Regions from separate parts of the Homo sapiens genome. Here region 2 is linked to region 1. Evidence: fine-mapped expression QTL. A gene starts in region 1. The other region holds a variant in brackets. All regions are shown on one strand. Distances are between the middles of the regions. Region 1 holds the start of UBE2L3 (ubiquitin conjugating enzyme E2 L3). Region 2 overlaps UBE2L3 (ubiquitin conjugating enzyme E2 L3).

What was found. PIP is the estimated chance that this variant, and not a neighbour inherited with it, causes the effect.
Region 2: its variant is fine-mapped to the expression of UBE2L3 in whole blood (TOPMed, PIP 0.98).

Annotation. Positions count from the first base shown.
Region 1 is chr22:21,562,961-21,572,782 of GRCh38, forward strand. UBE2L3 (ubiquitin conjugating enzyme E2 L3) reads left to right here and starts at 4,754. Exons shown (of 4, transcript NM_003347.4): 1 at 4,754-4,811. The coding sequence starts at 4,785. RefSeq lists silencers at 3,748-3,935, 4,578-4,817, 5,068-5,207 and an enhancer at 7,014-7,083.
Region 2 is chr22:21,617,558-21,627,379 of GRCh38, forward strand. UBE2L3 (ubiquitin conjugating enzyme E2 L3) reads left to right here. Exons shown (of 4, transcript NM_003347.4): 4 at 3,958-6,477. The coding sequence ends at 4,112. Among named protein-coding and RNA genes, the nearest start is that of YDJC, 7.6 kb to the right of the region's middle. RefSeq lists an enhancer at 5,655-6,188 and a silencer at 7,827-8,095. The variant T/C (reference allele first, on the strand shown) is at 5,088.

The DNA.
Region 1 (9,822 bases):
TTGCCAGGCATGGCGGCTCACGCCTGTAATCCCAGCACTTTGGGAGGCCGAAATGGGCGGATCAGGAGGTCGGAAGTTCGAGATCAGCCTGACCAACATGGTGAAACCCCGTCTCTACTAAAAATGCAAAAATTAGCTGGGCATAGAGGTGTGCACATGTAATCCCAGCTACTCGGGAGGCTGGGGCAGGAAAATCGCTCGAACCCAGGAGGCGGAGGTTGCAGTGAGCCGAGATTGCGCCACTGCACTCCAGCCTGGGCGACAGGGCAAGACTCCGTCTCAAAAAAAAAAAAAAAAAAATTTATTACTGGCCGGGTGTGGTGGCTCACGCCTATAATCCCAGCACTTTGGGAGGCCAAGTCGGGCAGATCACGAGCTCAGGAGATCGAGAGCATCCTGCCTAACACAGTGAAACCCCATCTCTACTGAAAATACCAAAAAAAAAAAAAAAATTAGCCAGGCGTGGTGGCGGGCTCCCGTAGTCCCAGCCACTCAGGAGGCTGAGGCGGGAGAATGGCGTGAACCCGGGAGGCGGAGGTTGCAGTGAGCCGAGATCGCGCCACAGCACTCCAGCCTGGGCGAAGAGCGAGACTCCGTCTCAAAAAAAAAAAATTAATACTTTTTTTTTTTTTTTGAGACGGACTCTCACTCTGTCACCCAGGTTGGAGTGCAATGGTGTGATCTCGGCTCACTGCAACCTCCCCCTCCCGGGTTCGAGCGATTCTCCCGCCTCAGCCTCCCAAGTAGCTGGGACTATAGGCACCCTCCACCACACCCAGCTAATTTTTGTATTTTTAGTAGAGACGGCATTTCACTATGTTGGCCAGGCTGGTCTCGAACTCCTGACCTTGTGATCCGCCTGCCTCAGCTTCCCAAAGTGCTGGGATTACAGGTGTGAGCCACTGCACCTGGACTATTTATTTTTGTAGATATGGTAGTCTTTCTATGTTGCCCAGGCCGGTCTTGAACTCCGGGCCTCAAGTAATTCTCCCGCTTCAGCCTCCTAAAGTGCTGGGATTATAGGTGTGAGACTGTACGCAGCCAAAAAAGTCTACTTCTTTTTCTTTTCTTTCTTTCTTTTTTTTTTTTTTTTGAGACATGGTCTCACTCTTTCACACAGGCTTGAGTGCAGTGGCACGATCACGGCTCACTGTAGTGTCACTCTCCCGGGCCCAAGTGATCCTCTCACTTCAGCCTCCCAAGTAGCTAGAATTACTTGGCCATCACACCTGGCTAATTCTTTTTTTATTTTTTGTTGAGACGGGGTCTCCCTATGTTGCCCAGGATGGTCTCAAACTCTTTGGCTCAAGCAATCCTCCTGCCTTGGCCTCCCCAAGTGCTAGGATTACAGGCATGAGTCACCACAAGGTTACTTCTGATGGGAGGCTTGGGCAGATGGCACAGAAAGGATAGGTCTGTATGAACAAGGTTTGGCTGAGTGGAGGGGATCGGGTATGACTAGAAGCCAGGCCTGCTAGAGGGAGCAATGAAGGTTTTAGAGCAGGAGAGGGACCCCAAAGGCCAGGCAGCCCTTCCACTGGGACTGGGTACATTTCCTGAGTGCTTGTTTAGTAAAAGCACTTTGTAGCTCAGCGGCTTGACTCCCCACCTGCAAAGTGCAAGGGAGTCATCTTGCAGGCAGCGGTGAGGATGTAAGAAGATGCCATGGCAAAGGCTAGTCCTTGACATTGAGCCTCTGATGATCCCACTCTGTATTCTCAGCTTAGCACATCCGGGTCAAAGGTATGAACTGTGCTTCCTCAACTGGCTTGGAATTTCTCAGCGTAAGCGTCCCCTTCCTCCGTAATTCTCCACAGAGGAAAGCAGTTCCCAATACAGCTATGTTTTTTATTTGTCCTGGGCCCAGTAAGGGCAGGTTCTGTGCTCACAGTAGACCCCAGAGTCAGTCCCAGACTTCTAAGTCCCACCATGACCCTAGAGATCTGATGGGGTCCCTCATGCATACGCTGAATGTGTATTGAACACTCAGTGTACTGGCCTTGGGGGAGGTAAAAGGCAGGCAGAATCGCTGATCACATGAGGCTTGTCATCTAGTTTCTCCCTCCTTTACCGTGTCAAGCCTGGGCTCCCAAGATGAGTGTGAGGCCAGCCTTATTCCAGGATATATATATCTATATATATATATTTTTGAGACTGAGTCTTGCTGTGTTACCCAGGCTGGAGTGCTGTGGAGCTATCTCCACTCACGGCAAGCTCCGCCTCCCGGGTTCACGCCATTCTCCTGCCTCAGCCTCCCGAGTAGCTGGGAATACAGGCGCCCGCCACCACGCCCGGCTAATTTTTTGTATTTTTAGTAGAGATGGGGTTTCACCGTGTTAGCCAGGATGGTCTCAATCTCCTGACCTCGTGATCCACCCACCTCGGCTTCCCAAAGTGCTGGGATTACAGGTGTGAACCACCACACCCGGCCCCAGGATATATTATTTCCAGTTCCCTTTCCTTCTCTCCTTTCAGGAGAAACCCACTGTTCTTAGAAATGGAGAAAAATGTCCAGGCCCAGTGACTCACACCTATAATCCCAGCACTTTGGGAGGCCAAGGTGGGTGGATCACTTGAGGTCAGGAGTTCAAGACCATCCTGGCCAAAAATGCTAAAACCCTGTCTCTACTAAAAATACAAAAATTAGCTGGGCATGGTGGCAGGTGCCTGTAATCTATGCTACTCAGGAGGCTGAGGCAGGAGAATCACTTGAACCCGGGAGGCAGAGGTTACAGTGAGCTGAGATCATGCCATTTTGCACTCCACCCTGGGTGACAGAGTGAAACTGTGTCTCAAAAAAAAAAAAAAAAAAAAAAAAAAAAAAGAGAAAAACTCCTTAAGAAGGTCTGAGTATATTCTGAAGCTATGTTCTTCTCTCTGCATTGCTACCTGAGGTCCAAACCACTGTCACCTCTTTGCCTGAATGATTGCAACCGGTTTCCAAGTGGCCCCTGCTCCCCTTCTTATCCTCTTACCCACCTCCATTCCCCATTTTCCAATCAGAGTACTCCTTTTTTTTTTTTTTTTTTTAAGATGGAGTCTCACTCTGTCGCCCAGGCTGGAGTGCAGTGGCGCGGACTTGGCTCACTGCAACCTCTGCCTCCCAGGTTCAAGCGATTCTCCTGCCTCAGCATCCAGAGTAGCTGGGATTACGTTCGCCCACCACCACACCTGGCTAATTTTTGTATTTTTAGTAGAGACGGAGTTTCACCATGTTGGTCAGGGTGGTCTCAAACTCCTGACCTCAAGTGATCCACCCCCCTCAGCCTCCCAAAGTGCTGGGATTACAGGCATCAGCCACTGTGCCAAGCCCCAAAGTACTCTTTAAAACATGCGTCTCAGCCCAGGTGTGGTGGCTCATGCCTGTAATCCCACCACTTTGGGAGGTTGCGGCGGGAGGACTGCTTGAGCTCAGGAGTTTGAGACCAGCCTGGGCAAGACAGTGAGACTTCATTTCTACAAAAAATAAAAAAAAACTTAGGAGGGTGTGGTGGAACGTGCCTGTAGTCCCAGTTAATTGGGAGGCGAAGCAGGAGGATCCCTTGAGCCTAGGAGGTCGAGGCGGCAGTGAGCTGTTATCGTGCCACTGTACTCCAGCCTGGGTGACAGATCAAGACTCTGTCTCAAAAAAAAAAAAAATCATCTGACCATGGAGTCAATACTCATATCTATCAAAGACCTCTCACAGCACATGGAATAGAAACCAACTCCTCCCCTTTCTACAAGACCCTCCATGGTCTGTCCCCTGCCTCCCTCCCACCCTATAATCCTTTTACTCCATTCTGGACACTGAGACAGCCTCATGGTCTTCGCCAGTGCTGCTTCCTCTGCTTGAAACATTCTCCTCCAGTCCTCCCAGCTGTTCCTTCCCATTTTCCAGGTCCCAGCATTGGCTTTGGAGCCAGCAGCCCACCTGTGACAGGAGCCTGGCTCTGCTCCTAGCTGGCCGTGTGACCTTGGGCAAGTCACTGGCTTCTTCTGTGCTTCTGTTTATTGTGAAATGAGGATGTTAATGCTAACGTATCCCAGAGGATGGTTTCAAGGGTTAAAGAAAATAAAGCACTAGAGAGAGGTCTGGCACTTAGTAGGGCCATTTCCTCAATTTGGCTTCCTTGACCTCTCAAAGTATGTCCCCACAGTCACTTTCCTATCACCCAGTTTTCTTCACAGAGCTTGGCAGTGTGAAGTAACCTTGGTTATTCAACTTTTTTTTTTTCCCCCAAGACGGAGTCTTCCTCTGTCACCCAGGCTGGAGTGTAGTGGCAAGATCTCGGCTCACTGCAACCTCTGCCTCCCGGGTTCAAGCGATTCTCCTGCCTCAGCCTCCTGAGTAGCAGAGATTACAGGCGCCCGCCACCACGCCTGGCTAATTTTTTGTATTTTTAGTAGAGACCGAGTTTCACCACGTTGGCCAGGCTGGTCTCGAACTCGTGACCGCGTGATCCACCCGCCTCGGTCTCCCAAAGTGCTGGGATTACAGGCGTGAGCCCCCGCGCCTGGTCAACTATTTTATGCAATCAGTATTTATTATGCTCCTACTATGTGCCAGGCACTGGTTGTAACTGCCATCTGATTGGACGATCCGTAAACGCTGAGGCCCAGTCTGTGCGGTTCACTTGCGTTCCTCCACGCGCCCCCCAGCACAGTGGGAAGCACACAGTAGGTGCTCCGCTCTGCTCCTGTGCCCCGCCCCGCGGCCCCTCCCCCGCTCCAGGAAGTGCGGGGGCTCCAGCCGCCCGGCCGGCCGCGATGCATTCTGGGGAAGGAGCAGCACCAAATCCAAGATGGCGGCCAGCAGGAGGCTGATGAAGGTAAAAGCCATTCTCTGGCAGCGGCCGGGCGTGGGGCGGCGTCCTAGGCTCCGGATCCCCGAGGCAGGCGGCGGCTTCTCAGGGCGCTGCCGTCTGGCTTCCTGCCCTACACGGCCTCGTCGGTTCCCTGGGCCGCGCGCAGGCTCAAGGTGCTAACGGGGCTGGCCTAGGCCGCAGCCTGGGCGGGAGCGCAAGGCCGCGCTGGGAGCCGCTGTCGGCCCCTCAGCCCGGCCCGGGGCGTTCACGCCACTCTCCGCCCGGAGCTTGGCCGCGTCCCCCTGTCGCGGAGGCCGCGGTCCGATCTGAGGGCGTCGTTAATGTGAGAGCCCGGTTGGGAGGCTCCAAACCGGGCGCCTTCGGGGAAGGCCCGAGCGCCGGAGCCCCTGCCCGGAGCCCGCGCCGCGGAACCGCCCCGCCCTGGGCCGCAGCGCGCCGGGCTTGCAGCTCCGCTTGGCCCGGCCGCAGCTCGGGAGTCTGGGAGGTTCGGGCTAGGAAAGAGAGAAGGAGGCCAGGCGGCCAAAGTTAGGTCAGTTTGTTGGTGGGTCGTTTGGAATTGCGCTGGGTCCTAGCAAACTGTCGCCTTGTGACTGCAGAGTCACACAGCGGGTAAGTTCCAACTCCAGGAAGGCCTGAGGTCGGCCCCGATCGCGGCGCGGTTCTGCTTCCCTCTCCTCCACTCAGTCATCCCGATCTCCCCTCCCTGATAAAGTGCCATTTTTGGGGGGATAACGGTTGATTTCAGTCGTTCGAATCAAAACGGGCCAAAGTTTATAATAATAATTTGGTACTTTGGATCTTGAATGCAGCAGGGTGCTTTCTCGCTAATTGGCACCTTTTGGTGAGGAACACATGCTAAATTGGCTTAGTACTTTTGCCAGTGGATTTGCCAAGGTCCTCTGTAGCCCACCCCGCCAGCATCTGTGAGTCGGCGGCTGGGTAGTGCTGCCGGCCTGCAACGGGCCGGAAATTAAAAAAAGGCCCAGGAGCCAGTTTCCTGAGGGGAGATAAAGAGCTGGGGTTCGTTCTAGGCGGAGCAGTGCTTGGTAGAGCTAGACATTGAACTTGGAGCCACAGTCTCTGAGCATTCCCTCCGTCCCTGGGAACGTTTCCTTTCTTTTGTTCCCTAAGGGCTAGAGAGGACATTAACTTTATAAAACTGGAGTGGAAGTGGGCACAAAAGAACAGTCAGAGGACTTCAGACCTCTCCTCATCTCTTAAGCTAGTGACACCACCATTCACCAGATAAGGGGTCGGTTAATGGCTTTCTTTCCTACCCTACTCCCAGGTGCAGTCGTCCATTAACCCTTGTGGATTTAAATTTAGAAAGATTTCTGGAGTGCAGGCCGGGCGCGATGGCTCACGCCTGTAATCCCAGCACTCCTGGGAGGCCGAGGCGGGCGGATCACTTGAGGTCAGGAGTTCAAGACCAGCCTGGCCAACATGGTGAAACCCTGTCTCTACTAAAAATATAAAAATTAGCTGGGCGTGGTTGCATTTGCCTGTAATCTCAGCTACCCGGGAGGCTGAGGTGGAAGAGTCGCTTGAACCCGGCAGGTGGAGGTTGCAGTGAGCCAAGTTTGCACCACTGCACTCCAGCCAGGGCGACAGAGTGAGACTCCATGTCAAAAAAAAAAAAAAAAAAAAGATTTCTGGAGTGCATGCCTTGCTTTCTAATGTTACTGAAATTACTCTGAATCTATATCCTCATCTCTCAGGTGCCCTCCCAAGTGCTCTCCTCCCCAGACTACCCCTGACGGACACCAGAGTTCTTTTAAAGCAGATAACTCAATTCTTTCACTCCTGTTAAAAACCTCTATGGTGTTATTGTCCTCAGCAGTTAATCCTAACCTCTTACTTGGCATGCAGGACCTTTCTGAGACTGGCTGAAAGCAATCCCTTGAGCCTCACCTCCTGCCCTTTGGTTTCCCACAGTTCTTGCACCTAATCACAGTAGCTACTATTTTTCCAGCTTTTACTTCGTGCTTTATATGCATGATCATGTTTAATCCTTCCTGTGAAGTAGACATTGTGATTTCCATTTTGTCGATGAGAAAAGATTCTTTGGCTTGCCCAGGGTTACCTAGCTAGGGAGAGTGAGTTGTGATCGAATTCGGTTCTTTCTCCAAAGCAAAGTCTCCTGCTCTTACTTGCTGTCTGATGTCCCTTTGCACGTGTTGTTTGCTCTACCCAAGAAAAGCTGCCTTCTCCTCACTTCTCCCTTCCAGAGAAGTCCCAGGTTCAACTCCAGTGCCAACTACTCTGTGAGCCCGTGCTCCCACATCCCCCTTCAGAATGTGTTGTTTCCTCCTTTGTGTGACCACAGCGCTTTCTTTATATTTCTCTTTGAGCACTTGTCACAATCTCTTTGTGTTACAGACTTGTCTTTCCTGTACTGGGTTCTGAGATCCCGAAGGGCAGGGATCTTGACCTAATTCATCCTGGTAGCCCCCTAGCCTATCCCAGTTGACCCAGTTTGGAATCTCCAGGCTCTCAGGGGTCTAAGAGGGGACTTATTATGGTTTTAAAATTATTACTCTGTTTCTAAAAAAAAACAGACCTTGGAAAAAAATTGTAACATTAACTGAGTATTTATTAAGTATTAGGTTATTTACGTAAGTCATCTTTTCAACACTCAAAGTTAGTGTATTGTCATTTGTATTTTTTATAAATGAGGACATTGTGAGGTTAAGTAGGTTAAGGGAGTTACCTAAGGTAGAATTGTGGAACGTGGTGGGGAGAGAGAAGACGCTGACTCTTCCTGGCTCCAGGATCCAAATTCCATGCCTCTTGTCAGGCTGTCTTTCTTACTCAAAGGCTGCATGGAGCGGTGTGTTGTTTCTTAAGTTGAGGATGGAAAGGCTTTCAGTTCACTAGGGGAACACCAGTTATGTAATGCTGATCATTGGCTGTGAGAATCAATGTTTAAGACTGTTTTTTTTTTCTTTTAAAGGAAGAAAAATTATTGATACAAGTTGATAAACAGTCTTTTCAGTACATAGGGTGGTAATAAAGTGATTTTCGTTGGTGAAAAGTTGGGGCTTAGTGCATGGAACAGTGCCTTAGGCATAGCAATCTAGCAAATGTTGAATGATCAAATTAATTACATCTTAAAGAACTTTAGATTTCTGTTAAAAATGTTTTCTAGGACATTCCACAGCAAAGATTTCTTTGTAACAATGGACTGTCTGCAGATAGTGTAAAACACATTATTAAAAGTAGAGTGATTTACATATACTACACTGAGAAGTTATTTTAGGCAAAGTGAGTATGATAAAGTCTTTTATTTCAAAAGCACTTGCCAGGAGGCTTAACCTCTTTTAGAAGCCTTTTTAGGAATTACAGTGTTAATAAAACATTAAGTACATTTTAATTTGCAAGCAGCTAATTTAGCATTGTTGGCTACAACCAGATTGTAACCATTGCTTCAATCAGGATGGGGAAATTGCTGCAAAAGCCAAAAGTGAAACCTTTATGTGTGGCTTAGGCAACTGATTGCCATCTGATCATTTCTTTGCAGCTTCACACTGCACACATTTCCCCTAAGGGCCCTCCTGTTGAGTAGCTTCCCAGAAGGGCTTTTCTCAGAGGGGAAATCTGTGGATTTAGAGGGGTGTGTGTGTAATGTCTTATTACTTATCATGACATAACTGTTGAGTTAAGGAGTTTCACTCTTGTTGCCCAGGCTTCAGCGCGATGGCACGATCTCTGTGCACTACAACCTCTGCCTCCCAGGTTCAAGCGATTCTCCTGCCTCAGCCTCCCAAGTAGCTGATACTATAGGTGTGCACCACCACTCCCTGCTAATTTTGTATTAGAAAGGAGGTTTCACCATGTTTGCCATGCTGGTCTCTAACTCCTAACCTCAGGTGATCTGCCCGCCGAGGCCTCCCGAAGTGCTGGGATTACAGGTGTGAGCCACTGCGCCCAGCCTAATGCTATTTAAAAATGTTCACTCAGAACTTCATATTGTTATATTTTCTCCCAGTTCATAGTCATAGTAGGAGGAACCTCTAAAAGTTCATTCCTTGGGTTTCGTTGTATTAAGCAGTGAGGTAGTTTGCTTTTGAGTATAGGTTTAGATTCTGAGGTTGGGTGATTAAGGAGATAGAGCAATGAGTATGTCACATGTTTCAGGAGGTGAGGGGAGTTTTATATGTGATGTTATGCCAGTGTAAATGTCCTGAATCCACTGAGGCTTTGTGAATTGAGAAAAACGTTGCGTCTTTTTTTCTAAATTCATGCATTCCAGTAAGTTGGGACTGTTTCAGCCTCCCTTAATGGTATTCTTTGTAAATGTTTGGGACAGGTGATGGGAAGGAGTATACTCAATTATTGCAACATTTGGGACCTTTTAAGGTATTTACTAGAAAACTCTGAGGCAGGCCAGGCGTGGTGACTCACACCTGTAATCCCAGCTCTTTGGGAGGCCGAGGTGGGCGGATCATGAGGTCAGGAGTTCGAGACCAGCCTGGCCAACATAGTGAAACCCCCGTCTCTACTAAAAATCCAAAAAATTAGCTGGGCGTGGTGGTGGGTGCCTGTAATCCCAGCTACTCGGGAGGCTGAGGCAGGAGAATTGCTTGAACCCGGGAGGCAGAGGTTGCGGTGAGCCAAGATTGTGTCATTGCATTCCAGTGCGAGACTCCGTCTCAAAAAAAAAAAAAAAAAAAGAAAACCCTGAGACAAAAACTCTTGTCTCAGGGTACTGGGGCCTTTTCTGATCTTGTTAAAACTCTAAATTAGGAGACTGTTGCTTTAAAATTTTATTATAAGAGGACACTTGAAAGTATTCTCATTTTATTGGAACATTTATTACGTTTAAGATATTTCTATATTCTTTGCTACAGCAGTAAATGTGAGAGCCACATTTCTTTGCAGCTTCACACTGCACACACACTGCACACACTGTGCACATTAGAGAGCCACAGAGACGTTCCTCCTGAGCCAGACTCCAACCACTTCCAGAGTTTTCTTGGGAACGGCACATAGATCTGTAGGCATCTGAGTCTTA
Region 2 (9,822 bases), 55 kb after region 1:
CGCCCGGCCTGTTGTATGTTTTTAAGCCCCTACATTTTGCAGAAAAAAAAAGTACTTCTGAGGAGCATTTGGGTCATGGAAGAGACCAAGAACCCAGGGCTGGATGTTTTATAAAATATAATTTTAATATGCTGTCCTATATATGAAAAATGTTGATAGAGGGCCACAGTTGTAATTTGTAAAGCAGACAATCTGTCAGGTGTTCTTACTAGCAAAATAAGTTCAGCTCAGCTGAAGTTTATTATAGTTTAGCTAAGGAGCCAGAAATGCACCCAGGGGAACAGCGAAAGAATGAAATACTTATCAGAACTACTAAGTAAATTTAAAAATACTCAGACTTGAGGCCGGGCATGGTGGCTCATGCCTGTAATCCCAGCACTTTGGGAGGATGAGATGGGTGGATCATGAGGTCAGGAGATCAAGACCATCCTGGGTAACATGGTGAAACCCCATCTTTACTAAAATTACAAAGAATTAGCAAGGCGTGGTGGCGGATGCCTGTAGTCCCAGCTACTGGGGAAGTTGAGGCAGGAGAATCCCTTGAACCCAGGAGGTGGAGGTTTCAGTGAGCTGAGATTGTGCCACTGCACTCCAGCCTGGGCGACAGAGTGAGACGCCATCTCAATTAAAAAAAAAATTCAGACTTGATCAAATTAGTGAAACTATAAAAAATAACGAAATAGACAAATGGCATCTTTTGAGAAATAGGTCTTTAAATTTTTATTTTGCCAGGTGCAGTGGCTCACGCCTGTAATCCAGCACTTTGGGAGGCGGAGGCAGGTGGATCACGAGGTCAGGAGATCGAGACCATCCTGGCTAACACGGTGAAACCCCGTCTCTACTAAAAAATTACAGAAAATTAGCCGGGCATGGTGGCAGGTGCCTGTAATCCCACTACCCGGGAGGCTGAGGCAGGAGAATGGCATGAGCCTGGGAGGCGGAGCTTGCAGTGAGCCGAGATTGTGAGCTGTGATTGTGCCACTAACTCAGCCTGGGCGACAGAGCGAGACTCCATCTCAAAAAATATATATATATATTATTTTTTTTTTGCGATAGGGTCTTGCTGTGTCACTCAGGCTGAGTATAGTGGCACAATCACAGCTCACTACAGCCTCAATATTGTGGGCTCAAGCAATCATCCCACCTCAGCCTCCCAAGGAGCTGGGACTACAGGCATGTGCCACCACAACCGGCTAATTTTATTTTTTATTTTTTGTAGAGGCCAGGTCTTGCTATGTTGCCCAGGCCAGTCTCAGACTCCTGGCCTCAAGTGATCCTTCCTCCTTGGCCTCCCAAAGTGCTGGGAATACAGGTGTGAGCCACCAACCTCTGCATTAGTTACCAAGGTGATGATAGTGAGAAGTAGAGAGCCTAAGTATTCATATCAGAGAGTGAGGTGAAAACTCCTGAGCGTGCCCCTAACGAAGTACTCAGCCTGTCCTTAGCCCAGTGAGGTTTCTAAAATGCTAATGCGGTAGTAATTCTCCTGTTACAGGGCCATTTCTAATCATGGGAAAGGAAGGGGAGCCACCTATTTGTGCTCTTAGGCGACTGTGGCTCAATTTCCAGCCCTGAAGTCAAGAACAGCCAGGAAAAGGGAGCAGTCTCACACCGAGGGTGGTGTGCACTGAAATACACTGTGGCCAGTCAGCCAAGGGTGGGCTTCGTTTATTAAATAAATAAATAAATGTTTATTAAATAAAAATATACCTCCAGGGCCTGCTGCCTCTAGAGGTACAGGTGGCTTGTACAGGGAGGTGATACCACCTACCCCTGAAGAGGCTTAGAGACTGAATTAGAGGCCACCCTGGCCTGCAGAGAGCTTTCCAGGCCCCTTGCCCCTGCTTGCTGTTCACAGTCCACCCTCCTTGCCCATCCACCCCCAACAAACGTGGAACCTGTCAGCATTGCATGCGCAATGCCCTCCTCGCCTCTGCCCCACTGCTTCACCTCTACCCACTGTGGTCACAGGAGCCCTCTCTTTCCCATTCTCACCAGGCACAGTAAAAAGCAGAGGTTAGGCAGGTGGGTTTTGGACACCAGGCCAGGAGTACTTTGTGCTGTGGCCCTCACTTAATGTGTGCTGTTGAATGATTATGCCTTTGCATATGACTCAGCCAGCATCAGCATTTTGTTTTATTTATTTACTTTTGAGACAGAGTCTCGCTCTGTTGCCCAAGCTAGAGTGCAGTGGCACGATCTCGGCTCACTGCAACTGCCGTCTCCCGGGTTCAAGCGATTCTCCTGCCTCAGCCTCCTGAGTAGCTGGGACTCTAGGCATGGGCCACCATGCCTGGCTAATTTTTGTATTTTTAGTAGAGACGGGGTTTCACCATGTTGCCCAGGCTGGTCTTGAGCTCCTGACCTCAGGTGATCTGCCTGGCTAGCATTTGCATTTTAATCCATTTCTTGTAATGCTGAATGAACAATATGAGCCCTTAATAAAGGAATTGACCAGGTGCAGTGGCTTCATGCCTGTCATCCTAGCACTTTTGGGAGGATGAGGCGGTAGGATCACTCAAGCCCAGGAGTTTGAGACCAGCCTGGGCAACATAGTGAGACCCCATCTCTACAAAAAACTAGGCCAGGAGCAGTGGCTAACACCCGTAATCCCAACTACTCTCAAGGCCAAGGTGGGAGGATTGTTTGAGCCCAGGAGATAAGACTGCAGTGAGCTGTGATTGCACCACTGTACTCTAGCCTAGGTTAAAAAAAAAAATTAGCTGGACGTGATGGCATGTGCTTGTAGTCTCAGCTACTCAGGAAGCTGAGGCAGGAGGATCATTTACACCCAGGAGTTTGAGGGTACCGTGCAGTAAAGTATGATTGAGCCACTGCACTCCAGTCTGAGTGACAGCAAGACTGTCTAAAAAAAATAAGAAGGAATTTGTGGCATCAGCAGTTCGGAGAAGAGGGGCACTGTTTTACAGTGGGAAGGAACATTCTGAGGGTGCTGGTCCTGACAGGGTCAGGGGGCAACTGTGGCAAAGTATGTGAGGAGGTGTGGGTAGCAGCTGCTTCTGATTCCCCACTATCCTTCCACCCTGGGGCACGTCTGGGCTACGGCACCTAGGGGGAGTACTGTGGCACCCATCAGAGCCATCAGCGTGACATCTGCCTGTGGTCTTGACAATGTGATGCGATGGCGGTTGTCAGCTTCCCATTGGCTGGCCCCAGTGACCCTTTCTAGAGGGTTCAGAAACTCCTAAGGGTCTTCCAGAGTTGGGTCATTGCGCATTGACAAGTGCAGCGCCATCACATACCCTTCTCTCTAGTGCCCACTCAGTCACCTTAACCGAAACTTCCCTGAGCCGAGCATGGTGCTGGGTGCTGGGCTGATGCAGGGAAGTTCTACCCGGTCCTGCCCTGAAGAAAGTGACCCTGTGTGCATGCATGAGAGTGAGCAGTCAGTTCAATACTAGGCCTCCTATCTCCAGAGTACACAAGAGGACTGGATTAGCCGGGCATGGTGGTGCACGACTGTAGTCCTGGCTACTTGGGGGACTGAGGCTGGAGGATTGCTTGAGGTCAACCCAGGAGGTTGAGGCTGCAGTGAGCCAAGATGGTGCCACTGCACTGCAGCCTAGGTGACAGAGTGAGACCCTGTCCCTCCTCCCCAACCCCCCGCCAAGAAAAAAGGGCTGGGAGTGACTGAGGGCTAAGACCTCCCCAGGTGTTAGGTCAGGAAGGCTTCCTGGAGGCGGAAGCACATCACTGTGAACAATTATCCACTGTAGTGTTAGCTATTTGTTGTCCATCAGTGTCTTCTAATCACAGAGGAAAGATGAGTTTTCTGGCAGTCAGAATTTTGGATAAATAGGAGGCAGCTTTGGCTTAAAAGCACATTAGCTGTAAATCAGTTGTAAAGCCAGAGTTTTGTTCCCGGATTAGCTGCCTCTTGCCTGTGCCATTTCTGAGACTGTGTTAACCCCCCATGCCTTGTCCTTCTCTTGGCAGTAATCCAGTCCCTCATAGCACTGGTGAATGACCCCCAGCCTGAGCACCCGCTTCGGGCTGACCTAGCTGAAGAATACTCTAAGGACCGTAAAAAATTCTGTAAGAATGCTGAAGAGTTTACAAAGAAATATGGGGAAAAGCGACCTGTGGACTAAAATCTGCCACGATTGGTTCCAGCAAGTGTGAGCAGAGACCCCGTGCAGTGCATTCAGACACCCCGCAAAGCAGGACTCTGTGGAAATTGACACGTGCCACCGCCTGGCGTTCGCTTGTGGCAGTTACTAACTTTCTACAGTTTTCTTAATCAAAAGTGGTCTAGGTAACCTGTAAAGAAAGGATTAAAAATTTAAGATGTTCTAGTTCTGCTCTCTTTGTTTTAAAAATCACTGCTTCAATCTACTTCAAAAGAATGGTGTTTCTTTTCTTGTCCAATTTTATCCAAAATCTTCAAGTTACATTTAACCCATAAGGTTTAAAAAAAAGGAAAAAAAACGGTTGTGGTTCCCTTTCTTCCCTACCCTTGCCACTCCCACTTTCTGGCACCGAGTTTATTTTTCACTTACTTACTTCCCCAGACCCCGGGCTCGCCTCCACAAAGGAGAAGAGACTGCCCTGGCGGTCCTGGTGGCTTTTCTTAGCATGTGTGGCACTGTTGCCCAGTGTGGGAGTTGGTTTAAATTCTCCTGACTCCAGTTTATAACATCCTTTTAAAAAATTTAAAAACAAACAGCCACACCCCTCCTCCAGTCCTTCTCCTCAGTTCTTGTGTGAAACTCCAGCTGATGTTACCACAGTAACATCAGTTAATTGGGCAAGCCCTGATGTCAGTGTGTGTAACTGACCTCTGGCCTGGCCTGCACAGAGAAGCCCTATAATCACAGGTCTGTGGTGGCCCCGAAATGGGGGGCCTGCTAGTCAGGAGGATGCTGTGCACACTGTGTGTGATGAATCTCGCCAGAAAGGCTCCTGAGGTCCCAGGTTGGCACTTCTCCCTGCAGCCATTGTAGAAGATCTGCTGGTCCTTGCAGGCAAAGCTACAGCCAGAATGTCCGTTTGAAACTCCTAGCTCATCTGTCACCGAGCTTCATCCGAATGTGCCACGGAGCTTGCTCTCCACTTCCTCCGTGCAG[T/C]GGCCCTGCCACAGCCCTCCCTCGGCACACTTTGACCCTTTGTAGGATTGGAATTAGCAGGACTCGGCTATTTAAAGCACCAGTCTGGGGTCGCCTGGGCCCCTGCTGACCCCCTCCTCCAGAGCAGCCAGCCCAGCCCGGGAACAAGACGGACTTCCTCTCCCTTCGGACTCACAGCCTTTGCAGAGTCAAGCTCCACTTGAAGCTCACTCAGTAATATCCTTTCAATGTGTTTTATATTGTTTTGACTGCCTTTTTTTGTAGAAATAAAAATTGACCTTAGAATTTATCGTCAGATAAACTTGTAAAGATTTGAATATTAATGTCTTTTCAAGGCAAATGGGATTGTCCCCGCACTAGTAGAGAATCCATGTCGCTCTGACACCCCAAGGAAGCCGACGATCCAAATGCCGTGTGTCACCAACCCCGCTTCTGCCACTGGCGGCTTCCCTTCTTGGCTCTTGGGGGGGACTAGATCCTGTGGAGAAGATGACTTAAACTTTGCTTTTTGTTTTAATTTTAATTCTATAACTTGAGATCTTTCCGGGGCCTACAGGCGTGTAAGACAGCTTGGTCTGGTCTGTGCAGAAGTGGGGAGTGATGGGCAGGTTCGGCAGCCTAACATTGTTCAGGCGCATGGCCCCTGCGGTGTGTACACGAACTCGGCTTCTTTTGTCCTAGGTACGCCAAGGGCAGGTTTCTGGAGACTCCCTTGTGCCCGGGATGGCAAGGGCACCGGGCTGGCGTTTCCACATCTGTCTTCATTAGCAGAAAAGTGATGATGGATTTTATTTCACTCACACTCCAGTTTGTAATAAAATGCCAAATTCTGTCAGCTATCCAAACAAGCCACCATTTGTTCTTGTTGCTTCTCTGGATCCAGAAATGTTGCCATTCTTGGAAACTGTCCCATTGCTTCGTATTTCTGCCAACGTAGCTCTGCCTGCCTGTCAACCCCTCACTGCACTCTGCTCATCACGGGAGGATACCTGTGTGCCGGCAGCCCCTCAGGGACTCTCAGCCCTGGCACTGGCACCCCAGGGTTGGCCCCGTCAGCAGAGGCTTGGCTTTCGAGCCAGTGGGTGTCTCTCCTTTGGGCCTGGGCGGCTTGCTCCTGCCAGCCATGCCTTCAGGGTAGGCTCTGAGCAAGCTGGCGAACAGCCCTGGCTGCTCCAAAACCAAAAAGCTGGGTCCTCTGGAGGAGGGGCGAGCTGTGGAGCAGCCACCCACTGCTGCCCCAAGCTCACTCAGGAATTCACACCCGCCTGGTTTCTTGAAGTGTGCTGGGTCCTTCCCTCTGCTCCCTACTCCCCACCACGGCAGAGAATAGGCTTTCTAAGATGCTGCGATCCCGTTCTGCTGCCCGTAATAAAAATGCTCTCAGACACTGGTTAGTCGTGTGGGTTTCTTCCTTCCTGGGAGCGGGCAGTGCCAGGGGCCTATGCTCTTGGAGATGGGAGGGCTGGCTGGGGCCCAGGTCCTGGGGCTTCTGATCTCTCTCCCCATTCCCAGCCTCTCCAAAAGAGGTACATAGAAGTGTTCCTGCCTCCCTAGAGGGAAGGAGATGAGGTATAATCAGCAAGAAAGCCGGAGACTTCAGACAGTCGGGGCCTGCAGAGGGCGCTCTTGGGCGTCTCGTTGAGGGGACAGGGACTAAAGTGTGGGTGCATCACTTACATGCGTGGGTCATCCTGGAGCCTCCTGGGAGTGTTAACAATCCATGTTTAGAAGAGGCAAACCTGCGGTCCCAAGAGGTCACAGAATTGATAAGGGTGTGCCTGTGGGTGGAGCTGGGCCATGTCCATGAATGGTGCCAGCCAGAAACACTCTGAGTCCCCAGTACAGCCCACTGCCAGGGTGCTGCGGCAGTGGTGCTAACTCAGCAAGGGCTCAGCCAGACCCAGGACTTTTTTGGCTAGGCCTTCCCTGCCTGGAATTTGACACCAGCTGAGACTAGGCCTGCACTGTTCAGCTGGATCTGCAGGTCTTGGGGAAGGAAACTTCTTGGGGTGTCATTTTACTAGCCTTTAACATACCTAGCACTTTACCCTCTGAGTCTCAGGAGAGCCCTGTGGCATCCTTATCCCTGCTTTTAAAGACAACCAAGACCCCTGGCCTGTTTTTGTTCACATTCTGACTGCAGAGCCTGTTGCATTCCACCATTTGGCATATTTCTTCCCACAGGGTCCCTCTGAGCCCAGAAACAGCCAGTTACCACCCTCCCCAGAGCCAGAGACCTTTAAGCCCCTCTGTCAACTTCCTCTTCCCTACAGCCACCAGCCACCATTTTTGGCCTTGTTCACTATTAATTGTTCAGCATGAAATAAGCATCCATTTCATCACTCCTGTACCCGCTGCAGCCTGACTTCTGTCACCTGCTGCCCCTTGCTGCTTCTCCTTTCATTTGGTGCCATCTAACCCAGCCCTGAAAGAAGCCAGAGCTGCTCTCAGCATTTCCCACCCTGTCCTGCCTGGCTCTTCCTTCTCTCTCTGCTTCCTGGATATGGCATGGGGGAACCGGGCACCAACCCAGAACAGAGGGGAGCTGAGGGTACCATTGCTCCCAGTGCAGTGCAGTGCCTAGCCTGGTCCATGCCTGGTAAGTGGCCATTTCCCAGATTATTGGAACGTGTTCTTGTTCATAGAGGGCCCCTAGGGAACCCTGGAGGCCTCAGAGGATCAGAGTAGAAAGGACCACCGTGCAGAGGCGATAACTGAGGCCTTGGGAAGGAAGTCACTTCCAGAGAGCATTCCCCACCCGGTGCTGGCCAGGTTCAGAAACCCCCCTGTGGCTCCACATGTTGCCGTGGGTTTCTCCTACATCTTCCTCTGTGTGTCACTGGATGACACTGGATGACTGTCCCTGTATGTACCAGACTGGGAGCTCCTTGCAGACCAGGCCATGTCAGCTCCAGCCCTGGCCTAGCACAGAGTGGACCCTCCAGACACGAATGCCGAGTGGGCGGATAACAGTGAACCGCTTGGCTAAGACACTGTTGCTGCCCCCACAGCCCCTGTGGCCCACCAGTCACCACCCCAACAGGTCCTTATCACTTTCACCTCCTCGTGAGATGGGCCTCATTATAATCAGGTGGGCCTGATTATCCTACCAGTCTATGCCCCCTCACTTCAGTTTTTTTTTTTTTTTTTTTTTTTGAGTCAGGCTCACTCTGTCACCCAGGCTAGAGTGCAGTGGCATGATCACTGCTCCCTGCAGCCTCTACCTCCCAGGCTGAGTCGATCCTCCTATCTCTGCCTCCTGAGTAGATGGAACTACAGGCTTGTGTCACTACACCCGGCTAATTTTTGTATTTTTTATAGAGACAGGGTTTTGGCATGTTACACAGTCTGGTCTCAATCTGCTAGCCTCAAGCCTTCCTCCCGACTCAGCCTCCCAAAGTGCTGGAATTACAGGCGTGAGCCACTATGCCCAGCCATTATTTTTTCTTTTTTAAATAACAGAAATAAGGTCTTAGTATGTTGTCTAGGCTGGTCTGGAACTCCAGAGCTCAAGTGATCCTCCCACTTCAGCCTCCCAAAGTGCTGGGATGATAGGTGTGAGCCACTGTGCCTGGCTTCACTTCACTCAAATGCTCATGGTCAGCCGGCTGCTGTGGCTGATGCCTGTTAATTCCAACACTTTAGGAAAGGCCAAGGTGACCAGATCTCTTGAGCCCAGCAGTTTGAGACCAGCATGGGCAACATGCCAAAACCCCATCTCTACAAAAAATACAAAAATGAACCAGGCATGCCTGTGCTCCCAGCTCCTCAGGAGGCCATGGTGGGATGATCACCTGAGCCTGGGGAGGTGGAGAACTGCAGAGACGTGATTGTGCCACTGTACTCCAGCCTGGGTGACAGGATGAAATCCTGTCTTTAAAAAGAAAAAAAAAGTCTCACGGTCCCCAGGGCTGCTGTCGACTCTGCTCATCCCTCCTTCCCTCCCTGAGTGACAGTAGCCACTCATATAGCATCTGTGCAGACCCCCAGGTCTCTCCTGCCCACCCACACCTCTCCTGAGCCTAAAGCTGCACAACCAGCTGCCTCCTCCTCTCAGAACACTTCCATAACAGAAGCCCCTCAAGGGAGCTACGTCTGTATCCCCGGCTAACTTCAGGCCACCCCTCTCCCAGCCTTAGCCAGCAGCCTGCAGGAGTGTGGCCAGATCTCAGCAGGCTGAGGCGAGGAGGTGGAGGCTAGGCAGCAGGAGGAGCAACTGTACAGTGATTCCAGCTCACAAGCATGGGTGCAAGAAAGCAGGAAAAGTGCTGCAGATGGGAGAGTCCAAGTCTAGTGAAGGTCAAGATGGAAGACGAGTGTGGAGCCAGAAAAAGGGACTGAAGCCACAGTCAAGGGGATGGGGCCATGAGTGGGTAGAAGCAGGAAGGAGGAGCGACATCCCACACTCACCCTTCAGAAAGCCACACGTCTCTCCAAGCTGCCTAGGCTGGATGAGAGCTCTCTTGGCCCCTGATTCCATGTTTGGCCCAGGCTAGGGCCCAGTGCACATTAAATAAATGAATGAGTAGTTTCAAAGCCCTGCTCTGCCACTCCTGCCTCTACCCCTGTAAAATGGGGACATCGGTGCCTGCCTCATAGATGCTATTTCATGAAATGAGACAAGGACCACATGGTATTCCATCTGCCTTTCCATCCTGCGGAGTGGTGCAGAAGGACTCTGTGCTCTAGAGGACTCGCACTGCCTTCCCCATCTGCTCCTGCACCTCAGGAGCTT